2 separate regions of the Homo sapiens genome follow, and region 2 is linked to region 1. Evidence: fine-mapped expression QTL. A gene starts in region 1. The other region holds a variant in brackets. All regions are shown on one strand. Distances are between the middles of the regions.

Region 1 (8,264 bases):
CCCCGCTGGCCAGGGTCTGCTCCTCCTCTGGGTTTGGTGTTATATTACAGACACTGGTGAGTCACTGGCAGCCAAACACAGAAGTACTGTTGCTTACACAATTACTCTTCAAAAAGTAACAAACAATTTTCATTACCCAAGTCAGATCGAATCATTCGCCTGGCCATCCTGCCTCAATCCCAGCCCCATAGACGGGACCCAAAGCCTCACACTCTGCCCATTCTGCTCTGACAAAACCAGCTTCAATTTGTCCCGGCCTAGGGATAGGGACAGAGCTCTTCCTCTGATCCCTGTTTGGAGCCAGATCAGCTGCACGGCTGTCAAGACTGTCAGGAGAAATAGGGAAGACACAAGCACCCACGCAGCCTGGAGACCATCAGATCTGGGGTGACATGTTACTGAGCACCTGTGTGAAGAAGGCATTCAAGAGTTTGGAGGACTCTATTGCCAAGTTTAGAAGGAATCCAACAAGATAACCCTGGCTCTGCACCAAAGTATTCACTGGCCTCAAATGGAGTGTCAGTACTTGACATTTCTTTATTTAATCTTTTTTGGCCAGACAGTTTTTTCAATGAGGAATGTGTAAGCTATTCCGAAATGTCTGTCTAAGAGGCCAGTCACCCTCATTACTGGGATTTTTCCACCATATCTCTTTTAGAAAAGGGTCTGTAACATTTTATATTTATTTCTTAATGGTGGAGCACTTTAAACGCATATTTACATGTATAATCTTGATTGAACTTCAAAATAACTCTGTAAGGATGGGCAAAGCAAGGGTTGTTGGGGCCTAAAGATGAGGAAAAGGTGGCTCAGAGAGGTTCAGCACCCTGTGCAAGGTCACAGAATGGGCGAGTACTGACCTGGTTCAGCACTTTGTCCCAGGAAACCTCCTCCGCGTCTCCACAGAGTGCTGGGCATTTCAGGACAGCTCAGCTGCAATTCTGCTTTTCCAGTGGAACATCCTTCTCTCTTCCACGTATGAAACTTTACGAAGCACTGTGGGCTTTTGAAGACTCTAGTCTAGGCTAAGAAGGATCCTCTCTCAAGAAGATTCCAACCCAATAGTCATTAAAGCATATGTTTCGTCATCTCCCAAACCAAAGGCATATATCTTTTGTCCCTTTTAAAAGTTTAGGTAAGGAATGTGTTAAAAGTCTGCCTGTTGCCGGAAATGGTGGCTCATGCCGGTAATCCCAGCACTTTGGGAGGCCGAGGCAGGCGGATCACGAGGTCAGGAGATCGTGACCATCCTGGCTAACACGGTGAAACCCCATCTCTACTAAAAAAAAAAATACAAAAAATTAGCTGCATGGTGGCAGACGCCTGTAGTCCCAGCTACTCGGGAGGCTGAGGCAGGAGAATGGCGTGAACGTGGGAGACGGAGCTTGCAGTGAGCCGAGATGCGCCACTGCACTCCAGCCTGGGCGACAGAGTGAGACTTCGTCTCAAAAAAAAAAAAAAAAAAAAAAAAAAATTCTGTGTGTCCGGTTACATGGTGGACATAACAAAAAAAAAAATGGGAAAAATTATTGTTTGCATTCCTTCCACTGTAACATGGTAACATCTAGCGATCGGCAAGTGGTAATGCAGAGTCCATTCACCTTTCTTACTCCTCGCCTCCTCCCATACCTAAAGGGCTGTTCATTTTTTAAAATCCTTTTTTATTTTTATAAATTTTGAGGTATGATTCATACACTATGAAATGCATACCTGGCTGGGCATGGTGGCTTACACCTGTAATCCCAGCATTTTGGGAGGCTGAGGCAGGCAGATCACTTGAGGTCAGGAGTTTGAGACCAGCTTGGCCAACATGGTGAAACCCCGTCTCTGTTAAAAATACAAAAATCAGCCAGGTGTGGTGGCAGGTGCCTGTAATCCCAGCTACTTGGAAGGCTGAGGCAAGAGAAGCACTTGAACCTGGAGGCAAGGGTTGCAGTGGCAGGGGTTGCAGTGAGCTGAGATTGTGCCATTGCACCACTCCAGCCTGGGTAACAGAGTGAGACCCTGTCGCAAAGAAAAGAAAAGAAAAGAAAAGAAATGCATAGCTATTAAGCGTACAGTTTCACAAGTTTTGACAAATGTATACCTACATCCAAATCAAGACACAGAACGTTGCCATCACCACTGAAAGTTCCTGGATACCCCTTTCCAGTCAACACCACCCCAGGCCTCCACTGTCCTAATTTCTATCACCATAGATTAGCTTATCCTGCCTCGAACATCAGATAAATGGAATCATATTATACGTATAATCTTTTGTATCTTTCATCTGTCACTCAACATATCTGCCAGACTCATTCACATTGTGTCAGTAGTTTGTTCCTTCTTATGAGTAGTATCGTCATTTATTCAGTTCTTAAAATCCAGCCCTATTACCACAGATTTGTCCCTCAAAATTCTTTTCATTTAATATATCTTCTGCATGCTCCTTTCCGTGCATGTATCTCCTGCATATCTCCCTGGCAATCCTTGTAGTGAGGAAAATATGTAAGTGGACTATTTTATCTCTAGCACTGTCCTTTTAGGTATGGGTGGCTCTCTCTACCTTCAGGAAAAACAGATAACCAGGCAGTCTTGCTTCAGAGTTTACAGATCTGGGTTTTCATTTCTTGTCTAGCACTTAACAGATGGGTGGTTCAGGGCAGGTGATTTAACCTCTCTGTGACTGTTTTCCCATTTGTAAATGTGGATAATAATACCTTCTTAATAGGGATTTGTGAGGACAAAATTATATTGTACATAGAATGTTTGGCACAATGAAAACTAATAATAGCCTCAAGCTAGGCTATAATAAACATCCTCTCCTGCTTCATTCACATACTTCCAGGTTTGTAAGTCATATGATACAAGTGGGTATAAATTTTCAAAAGTTTTTAAAAGGAAGATTTCATATTTAGATTTAGAAAAGTCTATCAGATATTTACTTAAAATAAGTAACTGTTATTTCCTAGGGAAAAAAGTAAAGCCTTCTGTCATTTATTCATTGGCAATTATATATCGAGTATTGACTAAGAGAAGCTCTTCAAAAGAGTTAAAAACATAGCCCTAGCTTTTAGGATGTTTGGTTTGGGGAGGGTAATAAGATAAGCACAACAAATTATAATACAAAATATAGTAAATGATAATAATAATAATTAACATCTATGAATGTAGTGGTTAAGAGCACAGTCTCTGGAGTCATACTATATGGGTTCACATCCCAGCTGTGTGATGTTGGGCAAGTTACTTAACCTCCTTGTGTGTAACCTCACCTGGAAAATGGGGCTAATACCACTTACCTAGCAGGGCTACAGTATCAGAAAAAAGTGGCCCAGGGTGTTTGAGCATCCTGTACAAGGTCACAGAATGGGTGAGTACTGACCCGGTTCAGTGCTATGTCCCAGGACACCTCCTCCGCATCTCCACAGAGTGCTAGGCATTCCAGGACAGTTCATCTTGCAATTCTAATATTGTATATTGCATATAAAAATATGCATTAATTAACAGCTAACATGTATTGAATATCAATATGTGCCAAGCACTGTGTTAAATGCTTATGTGCATTACTTCACATAATCTCCACAATGCTGTTACTACTATTATACTCATTTTACTGATAAGGTAACAGAAGGGCAGAAGTTTAGGTAACTTGCCCAAGATTACATAGCTAGTAAGTAGCAAACTGTGTCACAGAAAAGATACAATCATCTATAAAATGGGGATGATGGTATTAGTACCTACATTAGTGAGAATCTGATGAATTAATATTTGAAAAGTGATTAGAACGGAGCCTGGCACCTAATAAAGCCTATATATGTGGATGTTAACAATTGCTAAGGTGATTCAGAGATGACAGTAAATAACTTCTATGCGTGGTGACTAAGGAAGGCTTGGGAAGGTGATGTTTAAACTGGGCCCTGAATAGTGGACAGGATTTGGAGAAATGGAGGTGATAGAGAGGGCATTTCTGACAGGGAAGGAAGGGAGGGAGGGAGGGAAGAAGGAAGGAAGGAAGGAAGGAAAGAAGGAAGGAAGGAAGGAAGGAAAGAAGGAAGGAAGGAAGGCAGGAAGGGAAGGAGGGAAGGGAGGGAGGAAGGAAGGAAGGAGGGAAGGAAAGAAGGAAGGAAGGAGCAAGAAGCAGAAGAAAGCTCAGAGTGTGTAAAAAGAGAAAAAGAAAAGAAATACATGGGAGTAGTCAAATTTGACTTGCGCAAAAAAAAAAAAAAAAAAGAACAAACTTCCCCTTTCTTCCAACCAGTCCCTATTCCTGCTGTACTTCTCAGTATTTTCCTCTTATCCCCATGGAATCTGCTGTCCTTACTCCCTCATCATAATGATCCATTGAATATTTATTGAGTTCCTCTCCGTGTCAGGCACTGCTCTAGGCACCGAGGATACAACCCAGTAAATAGGCCGGGTCCCAGTTCCTAGTTTGCACTATAATAATCCTCCAAACTGGATTCTAGCTTTTAGCCGGCCGAACTCCAATCTATCTTCCACAATACCGCCAGAACCGAAGACACAGATCTGGTCTGGACACTCACTTGCTTAAATCCCGCTGCAGTATTTTCTCTTTACGTCCAGAATAAATTTCAGTCTCCCTAGCATCCTTTACTAATTGGTTCGCACAGTCTTACCTCGCAGCCTTCACCGTGCACTCTGCACAAGAGCCCCGGTAAAGCACTGAAAATCCCAGATACACACACTCACAAATAGGCACTTGCAGAAAGAACGTGGGGGGCACTCCATCCCTATTTCATCTCTTGTACACCGAAACATTCCCCAGTCTGCATGCCTTGGATGGGAGAGTCCTGGTTACATTCCCCCGCCCCCGACTTTTCAAGCCTAAAATCCGTCACAGGGCGCACCCCCGTCCCCACCCTCCAGGGCATTTCCACTTATAGCAGCCTGGGCACACCCCCAACCCAGAAGGGACCGGAAAAGGAGGGGCTGCGCGCGGCACTAGGGTCGCCGTCCTGGCTGAGGTGGCCGGAAGTGGCCCCTCGCGCGGGCGCGGACTGAGGCTGCGCGCCGCAGGTTCCGGCTGCTGGCGGCGTTGCGGCCGCAGGTTTGACTCCCGTGCGGTGCGGCCCAGCAGCCACAAAGCTCCCGCTGCCATTGCTCCTTGTACTCCCGCCGTCACTGCCGCTGTCCAACCCCTCCCCCGGGGCTTGCGCGGCGGCTCCCACACCCCTCGGCCCGTGTACGCGCTCTGCACCTGCCTGCCCGAAAACATGTTGCAGACACCAGAGAGCAGGGGGCTCCCGGTCCCGCAGGCCGAGGGGGAGAAGGATGGCGGCCATGATGGTGAGACCCGGGCCCCGACCGCCTCGCAGGAGCGCCCCAAGGAGGAGCTTGGCGCCGGGAGGGAGGAGGGGGCTGCGGAGCCCGCCCTCACCCGGAAAGGCGCGAGGGCCTTGGCGGCCAAAGCCTTGGCAAGGCGCAGGGCCTACCGCCGGCTGAATCGGACGGTGGCGGAGTTGGTGCAGTTCCTCCTGGTGAAAGACAAGAAGAAGAGTCCCATCACACGCTCGGAGATGGTGAAATACGTTATTGGAGACTTGAAGATTCTGTTCCCGGACATCATCGCAAGGGCCGCAGAGCATCTGCGGTATGTCTTTGGTTTTGAGCTGAAACAGTTTGACCGCAAGCACCACACTTACATCCTGATCAACAAACTAAAACCTCTGGAGGAGGAGGAGGAGGAGGATCTGGGAGGAGATGGCCCCAGATTGGGTCTGTTAATGATGATCCTGGGCCTTATCTATATGAGAGGTAATAGCGCCAGGGAGGCCCAGGTCTGGGAGATGCTGCGTCGGTTGGGGGTGCAACCCTCAAAGTATCATTTCCTCTTTGGGTATCCGAAGAGGCTTATTATGGAAGATTTTGTGCAGCAGCGATATCTCAGTTACAGGCGGGTGCCTCACACCAATCCACCAGAATATGAATTCTCTTGGGGTCCCCGAAGCAACCTGGAAATCAGCAAGATGGAAGTCCTGGGGTTCGTGGCCAAACTGCATAAGAAGGAACCGCAGCACTGGCCAGTGCAGTACCGTGAGGCCCTAGCAGACGAGGCCGACAGGGCCAGAGCCAAGGCCAGAGCTGAAGCCAGTATGAGGGCCAGGGCCAGTGCTAGGGCCGGCATCCACCTCTGGTGAGGGTTGGTGAAAAGTTGGCCAGTGGGTCCCCGTGAGGACGAACTACTGTCCTGAGTCATAAGTAATATGGGTGGGGCGAGGGTCTTATTTCTGTAGAAATCGTGTGACTTTAAGGATTTAGATTTTGTATCTTATGTTTTGTAACATTTAATAATTACTGTTAAAATGCTGTTTGTAAATGAGATTGGTCTACTTTTTCCTGTAGGATTTTATTGTAGAGTTTTGCTGGTTTTGTAAAATGGATGGAAGAACTTTGTATTTATACTGTGATTTTGAACAGATTATGCAACATTGGAAGGAAGGCTGTACTTTGATGGTTTGAAGGAACTCAGCAGTATGATGATCTGGTTCCAGGGGAAAAAAATAGCTGGTTGGTGTCTAGCCCCCCAACACTTTTGTCTGTTGTGTATAAAAGAAGAAAGACTGGCATGTACCTTCATTTGCTTAGCTATTTGAGTATCTAGAGAAAAATTAAAATGCAATGAGTTAGCAGTATACCCTGGCACACTTAATAAATTAAACATTTGTGGAGCATCTTGTTTTCTGTGATGCACTGTGTGGGCACTTGGGGATAGAATACTAAACAAGATAAAGGTCCTACTTTTTTTCAGAATTGAAGAGTAAGTAAATAAACAAGAAATTAGCAGTGCAATGAGTTGAAGTCTACAAAGGGATACTTAACCCAGCTGGGATGATTGAGTGAGGTTTGCTGTAATCCCAGCACTTTGGGAGGCCGAGGCGGACTGATCACCGGAGTCAGGAGTTCAAGACCAGCCTGGCCAACATGGTGAAACCCTGTTTCTACTAAAATTACAAAAATTAACCAGGCGTGGTGGCACACACCTGTAATCCCAGCTACTTGGGAGGCCAAGGCACAAGAATCTCTTGAATCTAGGAGACGGAGGTTGCAGTGAGCCGAGATCATACCACTGCACTCCAGCTTGGGAGACAGAGCAAGACCCCGTCTCAGAAAAAAATAAGAAATAAAAATAATGATTTCAGATCACAGCTACTCCTCAGTAATGTGAGCAGACTTGATACATGGCAGATCTGGGAAATACTCTACCTTTGCCAGTGCTGTCTTTCCAGACCAGATTGTTAACAGTGCACAAAGATGTTGACTGTCAACTTTTTGGCCCTTTCTGTCTCCTTTTCAACCTCTACAGGGTTCCCTCCTCTACCAAAGCCCTCAGAGATCAAATAATGTAACACCTCTGGAATATTATGTAGTGTGGATGAAGGGTACCTAAATCTACTACTACCAAGAAGTTCCACTTCAAGATTTCTCCTCTGGCACCAGGAAGCCCAGTTCCCCCTTCCATGTTTCTGCCTGCTGCTTTCCACCTGCCACCTCCCATTTACAGGAGACTTGTGAGGTATCCCTCCCCTTCATGTTATCCGTGGAGAGTCATCTGTAAGGAGCTCTGGCTTCTTCAATGCCCACCACCTTCTGCGTGAGGGTAAATCCTGTAGAAAGGGTACTTAGAATAATAGGGAATTTAGAGAAGTGATTCCCAAACCAGAGAGTGGGTGAGGGTCGGGGGCAGGGTGGGCGGATGGTGAAACTTCCCCTGCAACTGCCATAAACAGAAGAGCTGCTTTCTTTTCTCTTATCAATTTTTTCTTCCAGTTGTGTCCAAGTAACATCTCTGAGGATGTTAAGGTTGGCATGGAATACAAACTACTTTGGGACGTAGGGATCCAACAAATCAGATTGGGACAAAAGCTACCAGCTTAGGGACAAAAAAGTTGCTAACGGTTAAAAATACAACTTCTGGGTAGTTTATGGTTCATTAAACATAAATATTGAGTGTCCACTCTGTGCTAACAACTTTGATGGGTACCAGAACTATTAAAATGAGAAGACTTGGCTGGGCGCGGTGGCTCACACCTGTAATCCCAGCACTTTGGAAGGCTGAGGTGTGCAGATCACAAGGTCAGGAGTTCGAGACCAGCCTGGCCAGCATAGTGAAACCCTGTCTCTATTAAAAATACAAAAATTAGCTGGGCACGGTGGCGCACGCTTGTAATCCCAGCTACTCAGGAGGCTGAGGCAGGAGAATCGCTTGAACCCAGGAGGTGGAGGTTGCAGTGAGCCGAGATCGTGCCACTGCACTCCAGCCTGGG
Region 2 (8,329 bases), 76 kb after region 1:
CCACGCCTGTAGTCCCAGCTAGTCGAGAGGCTGAGGCAGGAGAATCGCTTGAACCTGGGTGGCGGAGGTTGCAGTGAGCCGAGATCATGCCACTGCACTCCAGCCTGGGTGACAGAGCAAGACTCAGTCTCAAAAAAAAAAAAAAAAAAAAAAAAAAAAGAAGTCTTATAGAAAACACAGACTCTTAGCAACCAACTTTAAGATGGGTGAAAACAAATGCCAAATGGAAGGACCAAGAATCTAGCCAGCAAAGTAATTGACGTGGAGAAGGGAAGATCAGAAAGAAGGTGAGGCTCCCTTGATTGGGCCTTGAAGGCTGAGCAAGATTTTGATAGCAGGTGAAGGGAATCAGGTATTGCAGACGGGGTTCCAGATGCCATCAGGCCTCAGCCCATGCCTTAATATTCTTGAGGCTTTTATTGGCTTAATTTTCCATGTGCAAAATGAAGGGTAGAAAAGCTCCACATGTCCCAGGGAGATGGGGTAGGGGTGGAGGAGCCCAGCCTGCTGGGCCCAAAGTAGATGGTGTGGCTTGGCCCAGAGCAGCCCACACTTTCACTAACCCAAGCTGCGGTCAAGGCCTCTTTGTCCTGTGTCCATGGCCCATTTCTCAGAATACACTGGGGCCACAATACACAGAAGCCACAATCCACCCATGGGAATTCTGCCCAGTGATCTCTGGAGGAGAGAAGCAAATATTGGGGCTGTGGATACTCAAGGGTTAAATGGAGTCTTTCAGACTCAAAGAACAATGAAGGTCAAGAAGAGAGTGATCAGACGAGCTTGCTGGAGGTGGCACCTGGCCAGGCCGGACAGTCAGCATTCTTCCACCTCTCTCTGCCACCCAGTCCATGACTCTTCCTCTCCCACTCAAAACCAGACCTCCAGGTTCCCACCATCCAGCCACACACCCCTCACCCAACCTGGCTGGGATCACCCATCCACCCAGAGGTCACTCAACGTCTTTTGAGGACTTGGGCGCCTGGCTCAGGGTCTTCTTCTGTCTCCCACCTCCTGCTGTCAGTCTGGGGGACCTGAATGTCCACATGGACTTCCCAACACCCTCACCCTTGGCTCTCCTATCTCCCCTTCCCCAACGACCTTCTCTCCATTTCTGCCACCCACATATCACCTGAAACGTCTCCTGTGAAATCTTAAACTCCAGCACCCCCATCTTGGGCCACAACTTTTTCCTTCCTTTCCATAAAACCTGGTCTCCACTCGCAGAGATTCTCCAATTCTCCCGTTCTGTCTCACTCGTTCGAGCACCGGTGCTGCAGTGCCGGCTTTGGACAAGGCCTTCCGCCAGCGCATCTGCTCCTTCCTGGCTCTACTTTCTCCTCTCTTGACCTGCCTGTGATTGGCCACATCATTCATTTTCCCGACACCCTTGATTCCCACACCCCCTCACCCTGCCTTTCCCAGCCCTGGAGGACTCCAGTCATCTGCTTTGTCCATTGCAATTCCCAGGCTACTAGAAGGCATAGGAAAACCACTCAACCGTGCAAACTAGTGCCACTCCAGATTTATGGTCCCTGACTTCAGCCTGGCCCTTCAGCTCCTGGGCTGCTGGTGATCAGCTCCTGTTCTGAAACTTACCACCCTTTCAGGCTTCCGGCCTGTCCCCTCCGTCATGTGTAATTGACAGAGAAAATAGAGATTCTCAGAACTCCCTCAACTACCCTCTCCTCCTCTTCTTTGCTAACCACAGACCCAACCCCACCTCTTCCCAAGACCTAGTTTTCACTCACAGACCACCCAGCCCTGGTGCAACTTGCTCCTCCCTTAGCTGCTGCAGCACCACCCTCTCTTCTGGACCTTCTCTTATTTTCCATCATCCCTTCCCTCTCTCTCCCCTGCTTCTCCTCTGTCCACTGCCTCTATGTTGTGGTTCCTAGAGCTCCAATTCTTGTCTTGCCCTGCTCCTGCACCCCTGATATTCTCATCTAAACCCATGGCTTCTTGCTCTAGTAATTCTGATATCTGTGGCTCATGTCCAAGCTCCACATCCTGGTGAACTTGGATGTTCACCTGTGTATCCCTAGGCACCACCAAAGCAGCATGTCCCCAACTAGTCCTCTTAGCTCTTGCCTCAAACCTCCACCTCCGCAGTCTCTGGATGTTGAGTTAGAGCATCACCTTCCACCCAGCCGGCCAGCCAGAGACCTGGGAGTTGCCTCAGCTCCGTCCTGACCCCTCCCAACACCCCACACAACATCCTATGTATTCTGTCTCAGACATGGTTCCCAAATGCACCCTCTCTCTTCCGCCACACTGCTATGTTTCTTTCCTGCTGCATCATCTTTTGCAATAACCTCTAGTTGCTCCTTGCTTCTGACTATCTCTCACTTTTGTATTTAAGCCAAATTTCCTTCGATGGCCCACAGAGGCCTTCACATTCCAACACATCCAACCTCTCTCTGCTCACCTTCCCTGCCTCTCTCCCTGCCAGCCCCTAATCCAGCTGCCTCCTGGACAAGCTAGAACTGCTCTTAACCCCATGATCATCCATCTGCTGAACCCTCTGGATGGGATAACCTCTCTCCCGCTTCCTTGACTGGGAAACTATTCTTCCTCCAAGATCCACCTTCCCAGACACCCCAGCCCCTCAGGCAGAATTAACTGTGCTCTTCATTCTGTTTCTCTGTACTCAGTTTATCCAATCTACAGCTGTTGGATATTCACTGGTTCCAGTCTGGGGCCTTCATGAATAATGCCTGCCACGAACATTCTTGTACACGATTCACCTCTGGAGTACACATGTCTGAATTGACTGCTTAGATGCTGACCGGCTGCTTCTGAAGAGATATTTGAGAACTCCTGGTCCAGATCTTCACCAGCCCTTCGTTTTATCAGACTTTTACATTTTTGCTAATCTGGAGGGTATGTAGTAGAATCTTCTTGGGATTTTAATTTGCATTTCTTTGATTCCTGATAAGGTCACACACCTCATATATTTATAGCCATTTGGATTTTTCCATATTTATGCATTTGATCCAGTTTTTCCATTGAGTTGCCAATCTTCATACTCATTTGTGGGAGTTCTTTACACATTCTGGAGCTGAGCCCTTTGTCAGTTGCATGTGTTGCAAAACCTTTTCCTGCTCTGTGGCTTCCCTTTTACTCTCTTCATGTTGTCTTCTGAAGAACACAGCTTCTTCATTTTAATGCACCCACATTTGTCAATCTTTTTCTTTATGGTTAGTGTTATTTTTGTGTGTTGTTTAAGAAATCTTTCCCTACCCTGAGGTCACGGAGATTTTTTTTACATTGTCTTATAAAGGCTTTCTTGTTTTGCTTTTCAGATTTAGGTCCTTGCTCCACCTGCAACCCCACGGCACTTGGTACTTATTTCTGTAGCACTGCTAACTCCATCTGTTTATATGTCTGCCTCCTCCACTAAACAAAGACCTCCTTTAGGGCAAACTACAAATCTGTGTTTTAAATCTTTGTATTCAGAGGTCCTAACACAGTGCCCGGCACACAGTAGGCACTTTATCAATGCCCTTGAGTGCCTGGATTGCAGAACCGAGGTACAGCTGCTTCCAAACAGGAAGGCCCTCTCTTCTCAGGAGTCCCACTTTTGCTGACTCTTGCCCTCCCATCAAAAAGCACATGTGTATACTGAGTTCATGTGTGCTGAATGTATGGCACAAGTGTGTACTGAGTGCCTACTGTGTGTGGGTGCTGGGCACAGTTTTAGTGATGCAGAGCCAAAGATGGCGAAGTCTCAGCCTGTACAGTACTCATCACCTGGCACCTGCTTTCCTGACGCAGTTCAGAAACCCCCACACTGATCTGGAAAGCAGAGAGTCCTGGGT[G/A]CAAATCCCAGCTCTGCCTCCTGTCATCTGCACCACTCTGGGCAAGTCAATTCAGTATACTGGGTTTCAGCTTTCTACTTTGTCAAAAGGGAAAACAACAGATAACTTTGTGGGTTGTGGTGAGGACAGAGTGGAAGAATAAACATGAAATGCCAAGCGGGTGCTGGAGGCATGGTAAATGTCTAAAGATTGTTGAGTTGAGTAAATGATGGAATGGATGAGTCAGTGAATGAACTGGTTGGGAGGGGGGATGGGCAAGGAGAGCTAGAATTGGGAGGGGCAGTAGGCAGGAGGCAGGGGCTGCTGGGTTCTCCTGCAGGCCTTCCTTGTCATAGTAACTGCTGTCAGCAAATGTTTCCCAGACAGGAATCCCCTTCAGGGCTCCCTTCCCCAACCCACTGCATTTGTTGACTCAAAACCTCCCCACTGCCAATTTAGCCTGCAGTAAGGAAGCGGGGTGGGGAGGGGGAGAGAGGTGTAGGAGGGAGTAAAGCTGTGCAGAAAGGGGTCTTTGTCTGAGCACTGTGTGGCATTTCAGATTTCGGTGGAGGGGTTTTTGTTGCTTTTTTTTTTTTAACCTCCTAAAGAGTTGAGTGGGCTGCACTTGCAATAAGAGGTATCAGAATGAGACAGCAGGGAGGACTTCCAGTGGGCTCTCTGTATTGGACGGTGGAACAATGGAATGGACTGCCAAGGGCCTGGGGAGTCTCTCTGAGGCTTAGACACAGATGCAGGTGCGCTGTTCCCATGGAGGAACTCTGAGGGTCTCAGCCCTGTGCTCCCTCCACAGCTCCTCTCCTTGCTGAGGTGAGAGGTTCCATGTCCAGGAAGCTGTTTTTTTTTGTGTTTTTTTGTTTGTTTGTTTTTTGTTTTAAGGAACAGGGTCTCACTATGTTATCCAAGCTAGTCGTGAATTCCCGGGCTCAAGCGATCAGCCTCCTGAGCAGCTGGGACTACAGGCATGTGCCACGACACCCAGCTCCCAAGAAGCTGTTCTGAACCCAGTAGCCACTGGGCCATCCTGCTGCAAAGCTTAACTGGGGCCTCTTGCCACGTGCTGTTCTCTGGTTCCAGCTCCCTCTCCTGGGGCTCCTGTTGGGGCAGCCCTGGATCCTGGAGGGTTCACAGCTGGACCCAGGCTTTCCCCTGACCCCGCAGAGCCCTTCCACGCAGCCCTACTTCAGGCCTGCCCCATCAGCCTGCCCACCACCCCTGACTCACGTCAAGGAGAGGAGCCGACAGGCCCAGCCTCCCGCCACCCAACCCCAGGCCCTGAGCGTCAGGCCTGTGCCTTCTCCTCCCCGACACCCTCCCTCCACCTTTAGGTGGCTTCGTGCCTCCTCCACGCATGTGCGTGCCTGTGTTTATGGGCTTCTCTCGGGCTGCCCTGTGCCCTCATGTCTGTCTGTGTCTGTGTTTCTGTCCCTGCCTCTCTCTCCCCACGCTGCCTCACTCCTTTCTGTCCTCTCTGTCTGCCTTCCTTTTTGTCTTCTGGTCTGTGTGTCTCTCTCGGACCCTGTCTTTCTTTCCATCAGTCTGTTTCTTTGTGCGTGTCTCTAAGTCACTCTGTCTCTCAGTCTGTCTCTGAATCTGTCTGTCTCTCTTTCAGCGTATGTGTCTCTGTGCCCCCCTCTCCTCTTCTCTGTCTCTGTCCCTGTTGCCGTGTCTCTCTCTGTCCCTCTCACTCAGCGTCCCTGCCATGTCTCTCATGCTCTGGCTCTCCCTCTGAGCCTCTTTCTTCTGGGCACTCAGCAGGCCAGTGTCAGAGTCAGATCCTGGCCAGCCGCCAGACCACTTGCCCCGGTGGCCCGCACCTCTGGCATCACCTCTGGGAGCAGGTTTCCTCACAGCTGCCAGGCGAGAGCAGGCCTTGTGGCCCCCAGTCCTGCCCTGAGAGTGGAGTCCCAGGGGCCTACAACCTGCCTTCACTCAGCGCCTGCTAAGGGCTCCTTTCTTCCCGTCCCCTCCTCCTCCCTCTTCCCGACTTAAATTCAATGCCCTGCAGCCCCAGTCCCCAAAGTCGCTGAGTCCTGGCTGTGAGCCCAGTACCACTCAGAGCTCCACAGGGGCATGGCTGCAGGAACTCCACCCTGACACCCTCAGGAGCTCCCAGGCCAGCTGGGGTGGCCCCACACCCGCACGTAGAAAACAATGTGGACAGCACAGGGCAAAAGAGTCAGGGCCCAGTGTGGCCACAGACTGAAAATCCCAAAGGAAGGGAGACACGAGTCAACATCAGGGAGGTTAGATTCAAGCTGGACAGGACTGTGTCAAATGGAGATGGCCAGAGAGGACATACGCATGACAGGACCCTGCCTGGCACAGGCGTCGAGGATGGACTCATTAAGGGACCCTGAGCTGAAGGGTAGTGGTTTCAGGGCTGGAATTAAAGTTTGTACACACCCTTGAGAGTAAAAAGATTAAAAACGATTCTCATGGAGGTATGTGTGGGGAGGCAGAAGTTTTCAGAAGTGAAGATGATATCTAAATTGGATTCCAAATCCACTCAAGGTGAAGGAGAGGGAAAAGCTATTTCAGGCTAAAGAGCCAGCAGAGAGGAAGGGAAGGGCTCAGAGAGAGTGGTGGGAGGGACATGGGACAGAACGGGGGCCCTGGTGCGGCACCCCAGGGCTCTAGACTCTATCTGCAGCTGCCAGGGGAGCGTTTTGAGAAGGAGAGTGACACTATACGCTTTTATTTATTTTGGCTTTTTAATAAGTTACTGGCAGCTGTCTGGAGAAGGGATGGGCAGGAAGGGAGACTGAGGGTGGGAAGAGCAGCTAGCAGCTCCTGCAATAGTCCTGGCAAGAGCCGAAGAGGGGCCTGCTGGGGCTGGGTTCATGGGAGTGGGGACAAGAGGACACCTTCAGAGCACCTTCTGAGGCAGACCAGAAAGGGTGGGGCAAGGAAGAAGTGGGGGTTGTCTGAAGCTTCCGACTTCGGGACACCAGGGAGAAGGAGAGGTTTGGAGAAAAAGACCAAGCACCTTGGGGTTGAGATGTCCACGGGACTTCCTGGGGTGGAACTCCCTCCTTTCCACTCAGGGCAGCTGGACATAAGATATGGAGGCCTACAAGTGGCCCGGGTGGCAGAGAGAGGTCTAGGAGTTGGTGGTTCCTGAGGCCAAACAGAGGCTGAGCTTGGGGCCGGGCGAGGTGGCTCACACCTGTAATCCCAGCACTTTGGGAGGCCGAGGCGGGCGGATCACCTGAGGTCAGGAGTTTGAGACCAGTCTGGCCAACATGGTGAAAACCCGTCTCTACTAAAAATACAAAAATTAGCCAGGGGTGGTGGCGGGAGCCTGTAATCCCAGCTACTCAGGAGGCTGAGACCAGAGAATTGCTTGAACCCAGGAGGCGGAGCTTGCAGTGAGCCGAGATGGCGCCGCTGCACTCCAGCCTGGGCGACAGAGCAAGACTCTGTCTCAAAAAAAAAAAGAAGCTGAGCTTGGGTCTGATCTATTATGGCTGGTTCCAGCTCCAAAGCAAGAAAGGGGTACACAGTCACTCCAGAAAGCCCTGAGTCCACTTCCCCAGTGTCTTCTCACCCACAGCCCCACCTTCCCACACCCTACACACACACACACACACACACATATGCACACACGTGTGCACACAGAGAACCGGATCAGCAATGGCACCCAGTGTTTCAGGCCAACCAACAAGCATTTTCAAATGCAAATTCCCTCCTTCCACCCCCACTCGTTCCTCACACAACTGCTCTCTGAGCAGCTGGGGGCAGAGTCGGGGAAGGGGGGGATGAGGGGCAGCAAAAATAAATCCCATTTTCTGCTCCTTTTCAATGCTGGGCAGCAATCCCCTGCTGCCTCCCCTCCCTCTCCACAGATGGGGGATTAGACTGGCCTCAGGTTCGGCTCTGCCCGAGGGGAGGGTGACAGGCAGGGCAGGGGCTGAGCTGGGGAGGGGTGCAAGTGTTCAGTGACAGGGCTAAGAATAACAGCTTCCATCAGGCCTGACGCCCTCTCCCACTTGCCATGGCTCAAGTTGTTCCTGCGTGAGGGAGACAGACAGACAGATACAGGGCTGGGTGTATCTGTGCATGAGACAAAGACCAAAGCTGGGGGTGCAGTTGTAGGGGACAAGCTGGCAGGCAAATCGCATGGATGTGACTGGGAGAGGCTGGAGACAGAGTGACCGACCCATGTGACAGTGAGATGGCAAAGGAGGGAGAGCATGTTCCATGTGTTTGAGTGTGTGTGTGTCAGAGGCTGTGTGAAGGCCCTTGTGAGAGAGGCTGTTGATATGTGGAAGAAAAGGCCGCAGGCAGGAGCAGGTGGGCAAGGCTGGGTCTGAGCATGTGGGCATCCTCAGGGCATTTATGAGTGACCGAGATGGGGGCAGCAGGGGCGGCCTGGCAGCAGATCTTGCTCTGCTGGGGCTGGGAGGCCTCTGTGCAGGGCAGTCAGGTGGCGGCAGAGAGCGCCGGAATGCTGCCTTCTTCTGTCTGAAGGGCAAGTGGGGAGGGAAGGTGTGTGTGCACGTGGGTGT

The links.
Region 2: its variant is fine-mapped to the expression of MAGEF1 in whole blood (INTERVAL, PIP 0.96).

The regions. Positions count from the first base shown.
Region 1 is chr3:184,708,771-184,717,034 of GRCh38, reverse strand. It overlaps MAGEF1 (MAGE family member F1), which reads left to right and starts at 4,971. Exons shown (of 1, transcript NM_022149.5): 1 at 4,971-6,671. The coding sequence starts at 5,214. The coding sequence ends at 6,137. LOC107986163 (a long non-coding RNA gene) reads right to left here and starts at 4,792. Exons shown (of 5, transcript NR_160768.1): 1 at 4,617-4,792; 2 at 861-2,004. RefSeq lists an enhancer at 5,712-5,771.
Region 2 is chr3:184,632,713-184,641,041 of GRCh38, reverse strand. No RefSeq gene overlaps it. Among named protein-coding and RNA genes, the nearest start is that of EPHB3, 75 kb to the right of the region's middle. The variant G/A (reference allele first, on the strand shown) is at 3,822.